2 separate regions of the Homo sapiens genome follow, and region 1 is linked to region 2. Evidence: fine-mapped expression QTL. A gene starts in region 2. The other region holds a variant in brackets. All regions are shown on one strand. Distances are from middle to middle.

The links.
Region 1: its variant is fine-mapped to the expression of OR2L13 in pituitary (GTEx, PIP above 0.99). The same link has a PIP of 0.9 or more in amygdala, anterior cingulate cortex, breast, caudate, cerebellar hemisphere and cerebellum.

The regions. Positions count from the first base shown.
Region 1 is chr1:247,934,694-247,943,269 of GRCh38, forward strand. It overlaps OR2AJ1 (olfactory receptor family 2 subfamily AJ member 1), which reads left to right. Exons shown (of 2, transcript NM_001355235.2): 2 at 1-646. The coding sequence ends at 62. It also overlaps the pseudogene CLK3P2, a transcript of OR2L13 not described here and the pseudogene OR2X1P. Among named protein-coding and RNA genes, the nearest start is that of OR2L8, 9.9 kb to the right of the region's middle. The variant G/A (reference allele first, on the strand shown) is at 5,023.
Region 2 is chr1:248,091,900-248,100,475 of GRCh38, forward strand. OR2L13 (olfactory receptor family 2 subfamily L member 13) reads left to right here and starts at 3,285. Exons shown (of 3, transcript NM_001395936.1): 1 at 3,285-3,355; 2 at 6,752-6,876; 3 at 7,459-8,576. The coding sequence starts at 7,477. The coding sequence ends at 8,415. It overlaps LOC105373275 (a long non-coding RNA gene), which reads right to left and starts at 3,643. Exons shown (of 4, transcript XR_949369.3): 1 at 3,505-3,643.

The DNA of each region.
Region 1 (8,576 bases), 160 kb before region 2:
TTCTGCACAAAAAAATGAATAGGAAAATTCCTGAATGTGTGTTCTGTCTATTTCTATGTTAAATGCCTGAAGGATACTCATGAGAGGTTTCCTAGAAAGAAATCAAAGCTTCTATCTTACCACATATAAGAAGTGAATATTTCAGAAACATTGTTAATAATAAACAATAATATGTGTTTGTGTTGTAAACACGTACCTCTAAAAATGTAGTGTTCCTTCTGTGGTACCAATTATAATCATGCAACAGTTACAGGAAGTAGAAGTTACCCAAGGCGTCCTATTCCCTAACACCAAAATTGTAAGACTTATGAGAATATCCCTAAAAATACAGTCACACATCCATTGTATAAAAGACAAATCCATGTTTATTTTTATAAAACTTTGTTAAATTATATTGCTAACAATCACTTATCAAAAATTCACAAATTCCATATGAAATCATTATTCTTTGCCTGGTTTATCAACACCTTTATTTAGTAAAATTTTACAGATACACATATATATGCACACACACATATATATGTACACACATATATACAGATATAAGTTGTGTTAAAATTGAATTACTCATCCTATGCTAGAAGCAACTATACAATATTAGATAGGAATATCATAAAAATTGCCTTATTTCATTTATACATACAGGATGATGTTTTACAAACTCTTCTAGCAATTTATCCTAATAGTTATTTCAAAGAAGATAATAAATATTTCTATTGAGAATTCATTTAATTTTTTTCCTTTTTTTTTTTTTTTTTTTTACAAACACTAAGACACACTTTGTAAGTTTAAAATGTATGGGCCAGGCGCGGTGGATCACGCCTGTAATCCCAACACTTTCGGAGGCCTAGGTGGGCGGATCACGAGGTCAGCAGATCGAGACCATCCTGACTAACACGGTGAAACCCCGTCTCTACTAAAAATACAAAAAAATTAGCCGGGCGTGGTGGCGGGCGCCTGTAGTCCCAGCTACTCGGGAGGCTGAGGCAGGAGAATGGCGGGAACCCGGGAGGCGGAGCTTGCAGTGAGCCAAGATGGCGCCACCGCACTCCAGCCTGGGCCACAGAGCTAGACTCCATCTCAAAAAAACAAACAAAAAACAAAACAAAAACAAAAACAAAAAACACGTATGAACAGCTTGAGTCAAATCTGCCTTCTGGCAGCTGGGCACCAAGTCTGCTCCCCCGCAGGCTCCTGCCTTCCTTCACATTGCACTGCTCATTGTGTGGTTCTGGTCCTGGGACCTGGTGGTAGGGGCTGGAGAATGGGGATTGGGCAGCCCAGTTCCGCTCTCCTCATGCAGTGTCCTGCGTCTGTCATCTGCTTGGGTTGTGGCTTGTGTGGAAGGACCACGACTGAGGTTGCCAGGCCAGCAAAGACGGGGTGCAGAAGAGTCTCAGCCAGAGTGATGTGCTGGGCAGCGTCCAATTTTACCACCCTCCGCATCAGGTCAAACAGCTGCACGTGCTCCAGAGAGTCTTGGAGCATGTCACTCTTCAGACGTTTGCAGTTCTTCACATATGGGCTGTCAGAGCTGTTCTCATCCCAAACTAGGCCCCATTTGTAGAAATATTTCTGCTTCTTGGTACAGGAGATCACGCGTAATGGGATGAGCCGTAGGGTCTTCAACATCACCAGGCGCTCTTGGTTTTCACAGGTCTGGAAGAGTGTGAAACCTGGTAGTACTTAAAGAGAAGGTAGCCCATGCCCTGGACATGGCAGGGGCGTGTCCAGCCCAGATCAAGGATCAGTTCAGGCAGGCGACAGTGACCGTGGTCACCATGGCGATGTGGTGCCCACGGTCAGAGGTGGCATTGGGGAAGTCAGCCACTCGGACGCTGGTGCTCCTCACTGACTTCTCATCGCTCCTGTGCTCGCTGTAGACGGTGTTTAACTCAGAATCCACATGCAGGATGTTCTCGGTTTTCAGGTGTGCGTGGGTCAGCCGGTTCTCGTGCAGAAATCTAAGGGTGTGGCAGAGCTGGTGGGCCATGTGCCAGACATGTGGGAGGGGAATGGCTGGATGTTATTCTCCTTCGGGAACTCAAGGGTTTTCCTGCCCAGGAGCTCAAAGGTGATATGCATGGACCGCGGAGGGTGAACCAGTCACACCCCAAGACGCACAGCAGCTGGTTCTCTTAGTCCTTCTCGTTTATTTTTTTCGAGAGCGTTGAGTTTTGGCGGTGCCGCCTCCCGGTGCTTGCCCACATTGCAGATGACCCTCCGGCAACCCGAGACGTCCTTCTGGCAGGGTCCAAGCACTCACCCCCTTGCCACAGGCGCCTTGGCCCAGGTTCCCACTTGTCTTTATTGCTCTTGGGGCCAATCACCGACCCGGCCACCAGGTGGCGCCTGTTTATCATCTTCCGCACCTGCGCCCTGGGCTCACTCGCTGGGGCTGCCGGAGGACGCGCTCCTTCAGGACCCGCTGCGGCCACCAGGTGGAGCCTCTTTATCATCTTCCGCACCCGAGCCCCGGGCTCACTCGCTGGGGCTGCCGGAGGACGCGCTGCTGCGAGACCAGCCGCGGCGTCTTTGGCAGTAGTGGGCGTGCTTGCGGGTCCAGGAGGGCCCCTCTCCCGCGACCGCCGACCACGATGAGAGCGTGAAGACCCTCTCGAAAGGAAGGGCTCTGCTCTACACACTGGTGTCTCCTGCGGAAGGGCAGCTGGGCACGCCTTCCAGACCGAGGTATCAGACGAGAGGCCCCCTGGGGACGGGGCGGTTACCGCAGTCTCCCTTCTTGCTCCCGACTGTCAGCCCTCCTCCCCTCCCATCAGCAGCTCAGGGATGGGGCTGGCTCTGGGGCCTCCTCTTCCATCAACCCCTCAGCTACGGGGCTGGTTCAGGGGACTCCTCCCCTCCCATCAGCAGCTCAGGGATGGGGCTGGCTCTGGGGCCTCCTCTTCCATCAACCCCTCAGCTACGGGGCTGGTTCAGGGGACTCCTCCCCTCCCATCAGCAGCTCAGGGATGGGGCTGGCTCTGGGGCCTCCTCTCCCAGGCTCAGCTGCCGCTGGGACCCACTCCCCTGAGCGCCTCTCCCCTAAGTAATGTTATTCATAGCAAAAACTAGAAAAACACATTTTAATGAAATAAATGTTCAGGTTAATTTTATTATAGCATGCCAACTAAATGTTTTATACTATAGAAATAAATATTTAACAAAATATGAAGATATATATGAAACTTTAATGAAAAATGATTAGCCTTTCACAATTGGAAAATTAAAAACAATAGTAATAAATGTTAACCATATTTTGGTGAATTGGACATCATAACATATTGTAGGCATACATGAAATATGGTACAAACATTTTAAAAAGAACAGTGTGGCAATATATATTAAGGACCTTAAATAAACTATGAAATTATCTTCTAATAATACAACTATTTAATGTTCATAATTTAGACATAAAATAAGCAATTATTATATATTAATAACATTTTTTCCCTGACAATTGAGTTTTTTTACTTGATTCCAGTCCTGTAACAGTCTCCTATCCCTGGTGTGCTAAGGAGTTTTATTTCAGTAGAGAATGAGTAAAATTACTAATATAATGATATATAAAAATGTATTGCTAAGAGACGTTCAAAATTGACTGGAAGTGCTAATGTTAATATTAGATGCATCAGGTGCTGTATTTTTTTAAAGCCTGCTTTTACAACTCATAATAATACCTAATGTGGACCCAAGAGCAGCATGAAATCAGAGACAGTAAAAATCCGAATAGCAAGATATTATTGTAAGCAAGAGAAAGTCATTCTGCTGAACAGATCTGAGGATGATATAGAAGTTTAGAAGTCAGAATTCATAGATTTACAAATTTCCAGATTAAAATACAAAAATAATCTGTGATAGGGCTAAAAAACATTTTTTTCCTGTTGGGGATATAGAAACATAGAAACGCCTACATTGAGGGTAGTAGAAGACTTCATGTAAATAAACATGCCCACACACACATGCACACATACACACTGACACACACACATATATTTTTCTTAATAAAGAGTGTAAAGAGCATGGTTCAATCAGTGTGGGATTGTAAAGCATACTTGGATGAAATTGGAAGTGGAAAGTAAGATATTTTAAACATTAACCACATACCTAAAGTACTGCACATAGAAATAATTAGGCTTAAAGGTAAAGCCTATCACAATCTAAAGACATGCATTTGTAGTGGTGCGTGTTCAGATACCTGGGTATTGTGGTGGAGATACACATAGTCTTTTGAACATTCCGTTGTAGGTCGCTGGTAGCTGGATATGTCCTTTAAACTTTTGTGGCAATTCATTTGAGAAGAAACGCAGCTTTTTCTATTGAGTTCTTATGCTATAAGTAAAGGATGCAAGACATTAATTAGACAAAATAAGGTAAAATTTTGTATTCGCTTAGAGAGTTTAAGAGGCTATTAGCCACTAGTCTCTATAGTGCCTAAGTAAATCGATTCTGCTTAATAAACTGCTACCTGGCTTAGTAAGTAAACAAATTGAAACTTATTTTAGGAAAGAAATATATATTCTTATATCTACATCAGATTCTCTTATGTAGAAACACTAGAGGGTGAATGAGGAGTTAATGTAAGCAGCATCATATTTTTGCTCATTCCTTTCTCTATGATTTCTGCTTCTTCTGTCCAAATTCTGTGAGGTGTCCTCTAGATGAAATTATCACAGGCATGGAAAAGGTCATTTTCCACTTGGTCCATCCTCATGATTGCAGTTGTAACATACTGGGACTCATTCATTTTCACATATGTATATGAGACTTAAATCATCCACATTTCAGGCCAGGTTAAGTTTCTAGAAATATTCTATGCTTTCCTTGCACTTACACTCAATCCTGTCGTCTACAGCGTTGGCACTGACAGTGTTCTGGTGGCAATGAAAAATATGCTCTAGAGCAACATTCTACATAAAAAAAAGAATAGGAAAATTCCTTTCACTTGTGTATTCCCTCTATTTCCACATTCAATGTCTATAGAGTGTTGTTAGTTTCTTTGGAAAGAAAACCGAACCTTCT[G/A]TCTTTCTAAGTGTAGAAAGATGTGGATATTTTCAAAACCCCAATAATAATAAAGTTTTTACATATGTTTGTTTTTTCAATGCATGTCTAAAAATGTATTGTTCCTCTTGTGGGTACCGATTTCAATCACTCAACACACTCTAGAAAGACAAAGATAACCTAAGGCTTCCACCACCCTCCCACTAAAATTGTAAGAATATATAAGAATTACATTTGAAATACAATCAAACCATTATATTAAAAACATGTACTAATATAATATCTGTGTTTTTATGAAACTTCCTAAAATTGTATTTCAAGTCTCACAATCAGTTTCTTTTCAAAAATCTACAACTCCACTTGAAATTACCATTATTCATTGAATGGTTTGTTTTGACACTTTAGTTTCCTCAAGTGAAAAATACATGCACATACACATATATACATACACATACTTACATACATTGATTGTAGTCAAATCAAGTTTCTCATTCTTTGTTGGAAGCATGAATACAATATTTAAGAATATCCTGAAAATTATGTCTTATTTCATGTATACATACAGGCTTATATTTTACAAACCCTTCTAACAATTTATCCTAAAAGTTATTGCAAAGAGAAAAATAAATGTTTCTATTAGGAATACTTTTAAATGGTTTTATTAATAGGAAAAACTAGAAAAACATTTTAATGAGGTAAATGTTTTAAGTTAATTTTATCAAGTTAACTAGATTTTGTATATTTAATAAATATCATAAAGTATTTAACAAAATATAAAGGTATCATAGCAAGCTTTAATGGGTGAAAGTGTTACTTTGCCTTCTATAATTGGAAACTTTAAGACAGTAACAATAATTGTTATCAAAGTTTTGGGTTGAATTTAACAGAAAACCTATAGGTATTCCTTATCCAACTCACTGTTGATGAGCACCTAGGTTGAATGTATGTCTTTGCTGTTGTGAATAGTGCAGCAATGAACATATGAATGCATGTGCCTTTTTGGTAGAATGATTTTGTGTGTGTGTGTGCATACGTGCGTGTGTGTGTGTGTGTGTGTGTGTGCGCGCGCTAAGCAATGGAATTGCTGCGTCAAATGGTATCCTTTTTAAATTTTTTGAGAAATCTCCAGACTGCTTTCCATAGCTGCTGGACTAATTTACATTCCCACCAACAGCATATAAGAATTCCCTTTTCTCTGCAGCTTCATCAACATCTGTGCTTTTTTTTAAATTTTTTGTAATAGCCATTGTGACTTGTATGAAATGGTGTCTCATTGTGGTTTTGATTTGCATTTCTGTGATGATTAGTGATGCTGAGTATTTTTTCGTATGCTTGTTGGCCACTTGTATGTCTTCTTCAGAGATGTGTCTGTTCATGTACTTTGTGCATTTTTTAATGGGGTTGTTTTTTGCTTGTTGATTTATTTAACTTCCCTATATATTCTGGGCATTAGATATTTGTCAGATGCTTAGTTTGCAAATATTATTTCCTATTCTGTAGGTTGGCTGTTTCCTCTGTTGGTAGTTTCTTTTGCTGCACAGAAGTTCTTTCATTTAGTTAGGTCCTGCTCATCAATTTTATTTTGTTGCTGTTAATTTTGGAGACTTATAAGTCAGGTAGAGGAGTAAGTATTTGGGTTATATCATAGATATTGAAAGGTTTGCTCTCTGAGGCATGTCAAAAGAGAGTTTAGATATATAAAGAATGGTGAATGGATACTAGACTTTCTGATGAACTAGCATTACCATGCCCCTCATTTATTTATTTACATGGTCATTGTAAAGGAGATATGGAATATGTAAGAAGTTTGTTATATGCATGATACTTGGAGAAATAGACATGGAAGATGAAAAAAATAGATGGATTTTGGTCTTGATTCCTCAATTAAACCAACAAATTCCTGTGGTGCTATTTGGACAGACGCCGAATGGAGAGAGATAGAGAAAAAGAGAGAGAGAGAGAGACCTTGTCATGAAAGAGAGAGACCTTGTCATGAAAGAATTTGTGAAACAAATGGACAAGCATTGGTACCTATAGAACCTAGTGATGGAGTGTGACTCAGAGCTGTGTACAAAGGCTGTCTCTTCATTTCATTAATGAATACAATGTGTGGCAGGGATACAGGAATGTCTCTTATTCTCTTCGGCATCTTAAAGTTTCTGTATGTTTCAGATTTTGTGGCATGGAGCCTTCCTAGTGAGAATCCCAATCATGATTAATTCCCATTTGGTCTCACAAGCTGGTAAATACTGGGAATTATTGTGTTACTATGACTGTAGCCTCCCAGTACCAGTCTTGGTTTCCTTTCTTTCTGTCCTTCAATCCAGACTGGCTTTCAGATACACACATACACAAAAAAACTACATGATCTCACTTACATATTGGGCCTAAAAATAATTGGAATAAGTTGCCCAGACTGGTCTCAAACTCATGGGTGCAAATCATCTGGAAACCATCCTCACAAAATGAATAAAACTAAATTCTGGGTTTTTAACCAAAAGCATAAACTTTTAGTAGAAGCATACAGTAAGCATGAACCAGCTTGCCCAATAACCTATTTTGTGTGGCTGCTTAGTGCTTAAAAGTCATGTAGCCCCTGTCACAAGGTCCTCATTTCCCTTAATTGCTTCTTTAGATATCATCTTTAATATTAGGAAACCTCAAGTTTTCTACATAAAATGTTTTCTAGATCCTGAATTCCAGTGGGTCCACGGAACCAGTGGGGCTACCGAGCTTGTCTGAGAAACTGACTCAGTGTACTACATGTTCTACTTGCCAATAATTAAACTAGTAATATAAATTATATAATATTGGATTAGTCTTAATCCCAGTCTCTTATTGATTCCTAATGACATTTATGAAAATAATTTGGTGTTCTAAATTTTCTATAAAAAATTGCCCAAAGTCATAAAGTAACTGAAAATAAATTGCTCTGCAGAGAAGCAGAAACCTGCCAAAATTTTTAAAAAATGTATTTGGAAATTAAATTAGAATAGTTTCAGTGCATTTAAATGATTTTTATTAGGGTAAATATATATAAGAGAAACACCATTTTAACCATTTTAAGTGTAGAGTTCTGTGTCATTGCACATTTATATTGTGCAATCATCCCTATCGTGCATATCCAAAACAGTTTCATTGTCTCCAACTAACACTTTGTTCTTGTTAAACAATTACTCTCCTTCTCTCCCTTCTCCCATTCCCTGGGGTCCACTCTTCCACTTCCTCTCTCTATGAATTTCACTACTCTGGGTACTTCGTGTAGGCGAATTCATACAATATTTGTCTTTTGTGACGGACTTATTTCGCTTAGCATAATATATTCGAGGTTCATCCATGTTGTAGCATGCGTCAAAATGTCTTCTCTTTTTAAAACTATATATACATACATTTTTATTGATTCTTCTGTAGATGAGCACTTTCTTTCTTTCTGCCTTTGGGCTATTGTGAATAATGTTGCTATAAACATGGGCATAGAAATATTTGTTTGATGCAAAAACAGAGTAACAAATAAGTGGGAGCTAAACATTGGGTACACATGGACATAAAGATGGGAATAGTAGACACTGGGGACT
Region 2 (8,576 bases):
AATATTGATTCTTCCTATCCATGAACATGGAAAGTTTTTCTATTTGTTGGTGTCTCTCCAATTCCTTTGATCAGCATTTTATATTTCTCATTGTAGAGATCTTTCACCACCGTCATTAGCTGTATTCTTTTCATGGCCATAGTGAATAGGATTGAGCTCCTGATTTGGCTCTTACCTTGGCTGCTATTGGTGTATAGAAATGACACTGACTTTTGTACATTGATTTTGTATGCTGAAACTTTGCTGAAGTTATTTATCAAATCAGGGAGCTTTTGGACAGAGACTATGGGGTTTTCCAGATATAGAATGGTATCATCTATAAAGAGAGATATGTTGACTTCCTTCCTTCCTGTTTAAATGCTTTTCATTTTTCACTCTTGCCTAATTGCTCTGGCTAAGACTTCCTACATAATACATATTAATACTTAATGTGTATGTACCTAACAACATAATGTCAAAATAGATGAGGCAAAAACATATAGGACAACAAAAGAGAAATACATAAATCTGCAATTAAAGTTGGATATTCAGCACCCCTCTGTTAGTAACTGATACATCCAGAGGCAGGAAAACAGTAAGAATATAACTGAACAGCACCATCAACCAACTGGATCTATTTCACATCTGTGGACTACTCCATTCAACAACATTAGAATACACACTCATCAAAGTACACCACATTCTGGTCTATAAAACAGACTTTCACAAATTATACCTGCCTCACAGTCTTCTTAGAAGGGTTACACTGGTTAAACCAAAACTTTATTGTCACTAAGAAATTGTAAAGAATCTCTAAACTCATTATAAGCTCCCAGGCTTCATGGAGACACCATCACAGAGTAATTCATTACATCCTGGATTTTTTTTAATTGATCGCACCTACTGAAACCCCTTGTCTATAATATCCATCACCGCTCCAACTTGTTAATGAGTAACTTCCATCTCTGCAGAAAGAAAAAGATGCTCAATCTTTGGTCAGAGCCTCCAAGGAGTATGATTGAATCTTTGACAGCCATATTTTCCTCTAAAGAATTTATGTTTCTGTGCAGATGAAGATGGAAATGGAAATGTAAAAAGGAGATGCTGAGAGGGGCTGAGCCTTGTGCAAAAGTAGAGAGTGGGTTTAGGCAGGAGCACGGTCATTTCATACGCTGTCACAGGAAACAAGGCTGAGTATATGGTACAGAATGAGGGAGGCTGATACAGTTCATGGAAGAAAAGTTTGAAATCTGATTGTTTTATTAACAGGTTTGTTTATTTTTCCCAGAGGAGTCTAAGAGATGTGGAAGTGGGGTAAGGTTTGGGGAAAGCAGGAGGAGGCATGGATCACTACTTTTCAGAGAAAGTCTGCAGAGAACAAGAACATACTGTGACGTGGCAAAAGGGCCATGAGATTTGTATTCATAAATCTGAGATGTATTGTCATAAATTTGAGGTGAGATGCATCATCATATATTGGACTTTCCTCAAGTCACGTTTCATTGCTGTGTATGGATCTTACAGGGACGGTAACAGGCTGAGAATGAGTTTTACCTGGGTTTGAGTTTTGCACTGAGTTAAATGCAAGCAGCACCACATTGCAGCAGGGAAAAACATAGAAGTTACCAAAGACTAACAAGAGCAATAAAAAATCTGTATGTGATCATAACTGGTCCACTCTTCTTATTTAAAGCACTAGAATGGCTTTGTCCAGTTTCGTACTTCATCGTATTTGCATCCAGTATTTATTGAGTCTCATCTCATCATCTCCTAGGACAAAGGGTGCCAAGATAATTCAAGAATCCAGCATTACTTTAGTTCCGGTTCCATCCATGTTGTTGCAAATGAAAGGAATTCACTCTTATTTTTTTTTATGGTTGAATAGTGTTCTATGTATCTAGTAAATTTTCATTATCCATTATATTACATGAAATAAGCCAGGCACAGAAAGACAAACTTTGAGCATTCTTGCTCATATGTGGGAGCTAAAATTAAAAAATAATAAATATAGTAGAATGACTGTTACCAGAGGCTCGGCAGAGTAGAGTAGAGTGGGGAATAAACTGGAGATGATTAATGGGCTCAAAAATACAGTTAGGATGAATAAGACTTAGAATGTAGTAGCACAACAGGATGACTATAGTTAACAATAATTTATTGTATATTTCAAAATAACTAAAAGTGGAATTGGAACATTTCTAACAGAAAAAATTAATAAATGCTTGAGGTAATAGGTACCCCAAATACCCTTATTTGCTCATTACACATTGAATGCCTGTATTGAAACATCACATGTACCTCATGAATATATGCAACCATTAGATAATCATAATAATTCTAAAAAATTAAAGGAAAAAAACAAAGAACATGGATATTAATTTTATAGCATTATTTCTAATTTCTGACATAAAATATAGCAGTTAGTGCCTTCAAAGATAAAAAAAGAACAATATAACCCCAAATAAAGTGTTCTTTTCTAGTTAACCAATGTATGGATTAAAGAGGTTAAGAGATGCTACAGTTGATTGAGCCCTTCCTCTGCAACAGACACTATGTAAACATTTGGCATACATCATTCTATTTAATTATTAGAATGTCCCTCAAATTAGTCCAGTTGTAAAGATTAGTAACAGGCTGAAATCTTAAGTAATTTTCCCAACTCAGCTTCCTAATTAGTGGCATAGCTGTCAGACTAGAGTATTCTCTCTGACTCTAAATGCTCATTTTATCACATTGTCTCTAAGAGTCAGCTTTCACTTTAGTAGAATAGCTAAATGGATATATATTGTCATGTATCAATTATCTACCCCCACCTAACAAGTAGAAGGAAGTGTTTTATCCTAGTATAATTTAATTTAGTCACAATCATCAATCATTCCCCCTGGAAACTCACTAAAGAGTGGACAGGAAACTATCCTTGGGACTAGTTCTGCTATTACTGAGTCGAGTACTTGTAAGTGGTTCCTGCACTTTTTTAATCCGGAATTCTCTAACTTACATGATGACAGAATTTCCATAAACATAATTTAACATCTTCTATAGCTCTGAAATCATGTACTGGAATATTAAATACACCCCTCTTTAGTCTGATTCTGGGTAGCAGCTGAATGCAGCAAAGTTGATTGGGTTGGTTGATTTGCTTTAAGTTCAGAATTTGAGTTCATCCCCAAATCAGCAAAGTCAAGTGAAGTGACCAAGGTTTTGGCCCCCGTGGACTTGGACACTGGAGATCAATTAGAGGAGAAAGAGGAATATCTAAGGGTTGGTGACTTAAGGTTCTGTGTGTAAAATATAGCCATTCATCCTTCTGTCTTCCAATGGTGGAACCTGAGAGACTTCAGTGTAAAATGCCTTATTCTGTTCTCACTGAAACAAGGTAAGAGGAAAGGAAGAGACTTTATCTAAACACTGCATATGCAAACAGGATAATATTTCACAAGAGCTGGTGAAGTTGTTTTCTGATTTCACCATAAAGACAATGACTAGCTGTGGGAGCTGTAAGGAATGAATATTATAAAGTGTTACCTGGTGTTTCTTCCTCATGAATTTTGGCAGATAAAGAAGAGATTCTCACTTCAGAAAGAGTTTTGGTTTAATGCAGAGCCTATTGATCAGTGATATAATGTTATTGATAGCCTGATATACTATCAGAACATAGTTTGATGCTTACATGTTTTAAATAATTATATGGAATGTTTGCAGATTATGATGTCACTGTAAAGCTGCTGCTTTTTTTTTTTTTTTTTGAGATGGAGTCTCACTATGTCACCCAGGCTGGAGTGCAGGGTCACGATCTCAGCTCACTGCAACTTCTGCCTCCCAGGTTCAAGTGATTCTTCTGCCTCAGCCTCCCGAGTGGATGGGATCACAGGCGCATGCCACCACGCCTGGCTAATTTTTGTGTTTTTAGTAGAGATGGGGTGTCACCATATTGGTCAGGCTGGTCCCGAACTCCTGACCTCGTGATCCGCCCGCCTTGGCCTCCCAAAGTGCTGGGCTTACAGACCTGAGCCACTGCGCCTGGCCATAAAACTGCTTTTTATACCACTATATAAACTGAAGAACTTCGGGCAAAGTGAGTCATAGTAATATAACTGAATTGAGTTGATTTGGGTCGGCTTTATCCTAGAAAGCTTTTTTGGAAATGTTTTCCTATCATCAGGAAACTCTCTGCTGCACAGGGAATAGACAGTTCCATAACAAATTGAAAAAGAAGGCTGGGCACCCAGGTGGCTCATGCCTGTAATCCCAGCACTTTGGGAGGCCGAGGTGGGCAGATCACGAGGTCAGGAGATCGAGACCATCCTGGCTAACACAGTGAAACCCGGTCTCTACTGAAAATACAAAAATAAAAATTAGCCGGGCGTGGTGGTGGGCGCCTGTAGTCCCAGCTACTGGGGAGGCTGAGGCAGGAGAAGGGCGTGAACCCGGGAGGCGGAGCTTGCAGTGAGCCAAGATCAGGCCACTGCACTCCAGCCTGGGCGACACAGTGAGACTCTGTCTCAAAAAAAAAAAAAATGAAAACCAAGAGTGAACTAAAAATGTAAAAAAAGGTAACATGAACTTGTTAGAGTTGCACTATGTGCAGCTCTCAAACAATGTGACATTAATAAAAACATTTTCTCAGGGCGTGAGGGCTCTCCATGGTTAACACAGGGAATGGGCAAAGGACAGTGACAATTACTAAGGACCTACTATGTGCTGAACACACAGAACTGTGAATTCTCTTTATAGTTGTCCTATACGTTGTTGAGATTGAGGGAGCTGAGTCTATGACTATTTGCTATTGGTCTCCTGCTGATTGTTTAAAAGAGTTTTAAGAAGCATTCACTAATTGTAATTTTGCAAAATAAATTCAGGACCCTACACTTGCTACACTTACATTGTTAGTTTCTGTGAAATGAGGTGTTTTTTAACTCTATAAATTTCAGCAACGTATCTTTTAGAATGAGAAAGAAAATAAACTTTTTATCTGAGGAATAAGTAGCCCCCTTTAAATTATCAGGCCCAGCAAGATTGAAATGTGGCCGCAGTCACATCTCACTCTTTCTTGAGCTAGGTAATCATCTCTTGAATCTACGTGCTATGGGGGCTCTGGACTGACTTGTGGCAACTAACCATGAATTAACCTATCAATCCCCTAAACCACATATCCTATAGTTAAATAATGCATAACCAATCACTGATCAATGTTGTTTCTGAAACCAGTGAGACTTGCTGATAAATAACTTTAGAATTTGTCTCCACTCCTGATTCCTCCCTTTCTTTACCTTAAAAACTTGGGTCTCTTCTTGTTCTCCAGGTTACTTGCCACAGAAGTGTTTCTGGGCTGCAGCCCTCAACCTTGGCCCAAATAAACTTTCTGTATTAATTTTGCCTTAGTGTCGTTCTTTAAGTCAACAAGGATGGCCAAGGCAGTCACTAATCTCACACTCACCTGATAGCCACAGGAACAACATTTTCCCAGCTATAAGGTAACCGACAGAATGATGCTTCATGTAATTCTGGTGCATGAAATAAGGTCCCATGTCTAACAAGGAAAGCTGCTGGACATCAATGGAAATAGATCCTAAACTCAAACTCCAATATCCCATGACCTAAAATCTCCAAGTCCCAGATTCACAGGATCCTAAAAGTAACTATTCTCTTCCATTGCCTAACAACATGCCACTTTTCCATTTTTGGAAACAAAATCATTATTGTAGTAACTGCCATAAAACAATCTTTATAATACTCTGAGCTATAGTCTATGCAACAAAGAATCAAAATGTCTCTCTTCAAAACAACTCCAGGATGGAACACATAAACCTACACCCAAGTCAGCTTGTTCAGGGCTCGGTATTGGATACACCTCATGGGATCATGCTGGCAGCTTTCTTCCCCTGGATTTAAACCTGGATTAAACAAAGGAATTCAGAAAGCACTACAAAAGGCTTTTCCAATTTCCAGGACATGTTGGGCATCCCCTAAGGCCTGGGCACATCAGGACAGTTGGTCGCCCACTTGGGGATGGGACAGCACCTGATGAATCATTCTATCCCCACTGCCTCACTCAGTGACTACTGCATCAAAGGCTGTCAACATGTTAATCTGATAAAATTAATCAAATATTTGCTTGGAACTAAATTACTAGGATAGTTCTTACTGATAGAATGAAGCCACATGAGTTACAAAATCAATCTTTATCATACATACCCTGGAAATTAGAAAAGTCGTTTGGAATACTTTTTGAATTCCTTTGTTTAATCCAATGATCTCTCTGCTTTTTTATTTTTCTATAGAATCGTAATCACTACATAACATCACTGTATGTTTGAGTTTGTTGGTCTATTGTTTGTATAATTATCTCAATTTTAATTACATATTCTAAAATCCTTTGTGTTTCATCACCAAAGCACATCAGTAGCTAGCAGCACTGTCATAAAACATAAATTCAGTGAACACTATTTGAGGAAATGAATGTATCATAATGATGGTTTTCATGTTTTTTTCTGATCAGTTTTTATTTCTAAAGCACTATAAGAAGCAGAGAGTGCCTGTGATCCCATTTGGCATCCAAGTCCAATGCTACTGTGCACCTGTCATGTTCCCAACTTTTCATTGTTAGTGTTTATTCCTTAGACAGCTATAGAAATGAATTTCCATTTTTTTTCCTGTGGCAGGCTCTCTTTCACAATTGTATTCATGCTACCCAAGGTTATATGAACTAACAGTTGAGTTTAAGTTCCTAAATGTGAATAATTGCAACAAACTATGATTTGCTTTTGAACAGCAAAAGTTGAAAAATCAGTAACCCAAGATGACTAACCAAATCAATATGCTGGGCAGGATGAGACATCAGTGTCTGCCTCAGACAGAAGAGCACACACAAAACATGACCTCTCACTCCAAGCCCAGGTAAAGGAAGAAGTCACACAGATGTTAGAAATATAGTTTACGAATACCTGGGAAACTGCATGAAGAAAAAAACAAACTGCCAGATTTGGGGTGGTGTAAAGAGAAAAAGAGAGATTCTAAAAGTCATAAATAAAAATTCCCAAGGAAAAGCCTAGGCATAAAAAGCTAGACAAACTTTCCAGGGAGGGAAAATTATTTATTTTTGTTTGCTTGATTTCTTTATTCTCAATTATTAACATTTAATTGTGTTGTTCTATCTAATTAAATTGGAAGACATGCTTAAGCCATAAATTACAATTGTTCTACTGCTCACACTGGCTTTTCCAGTTGAATAGATTTGTAGCTGCTTGACTCTGCTGTCATCTACAGTAATGAAAATCAAACTATAAGAACAGAAAGTGAATATCCTCTCTAATCTCCATATGCTTCAGATATAGAAATTGATTAAAAAAAACCTGCAGTGTTAGTGGAGAAACAACTCATTCTAAACAAACATTGATAAAGTCAGTTCCTTTTTGTTTTTCTATTGTGTTTTATTTCATGTTTTGTGCTTTGCTTTTGTTTCTATTTCTCTTTCAACAGTTACAGCAGAAAGTTTTCATGGAGAAATGGAATCACACTTCAAATGATTTCATTTTGTTGGGTCTGCTTCCCCCAAATCAAACTGGAATATTTCTCTTGTGCCTTATCATCCTCATATTCTTTCTGGCCTCGGTGGGTAACTCGGCCATGATTCACCTCATCCACGTGGATCCTCGTCTCCACACACCGATGTACTTTCTTCTCAGCCAGCTCTCCCTTATGGACCTGATGTACATCTCCACCACCGTCCCCAAGATGGCGTACAACTTCCTGTCCGGCCAGAAAGGCATCTCCTTCCTGGGATGTGGTGTGCAAAGCTTCTTCTTCCTGACCATGGCGTGTTCTGAAGGCTTACTCCTGACCTCCATGGCCTACGACCGTTATTTGGCCATCTGCCACTCTCTCTATTATCCTATCCGCATGAGTAAAATGATGTGTGTGAAGATGATTGGAGGCTCTTGGACACTGGGGTCCATCAACTCCTTGGCACACACAGTCTTTGCCCTTCATATTCCCTACTGCAGGTCTAGGGCTATTGACCATTTCTTCTGCGATGTCCCAGCCATGTTGCTTCTTGCCTGTACAGATACTTGGGTCTATGAATATATGGTTTTTGTAAGTACAAGCCTCTTTCTCCTTTTCCCTTTCATTGGCATCACTTCTTCCTGTGGCCGAGTCCTATTTGCTGTCTATCATATGCACTCAAAGGAGGGGAGAAAAAAGGCCTTCACCACCATTTCAACACATTTAACTGTAGTGATCTTTTACTATGCACCTTTTGTCTACACCTATCTTCGGCCCAGGAATCTCCGCTCACCAGCTGAAGACAAGATCCTGGCAGTCTTCTACACCATCCTTACCCCCATGCTCAATCCCATTATCTACAGCCTGAGGAATAAGGAAGTCCTGGGGGCTATGAGGAGAGTGTTTGGGATATTCTCTTTCCTGAAAGAATAATCATGGCCATCCCCACTCCCTTTGTATTTCCTCTTTCCAAGTTGATTCCAACACGCTAGAGCAGGGTTGTCCAATAGAAATACAACATAATTTAAAATTTTCTAATAGGTACATTTAAGCAGTCAAATAAATTTAAATAATATATTTAATTCAAAACAATG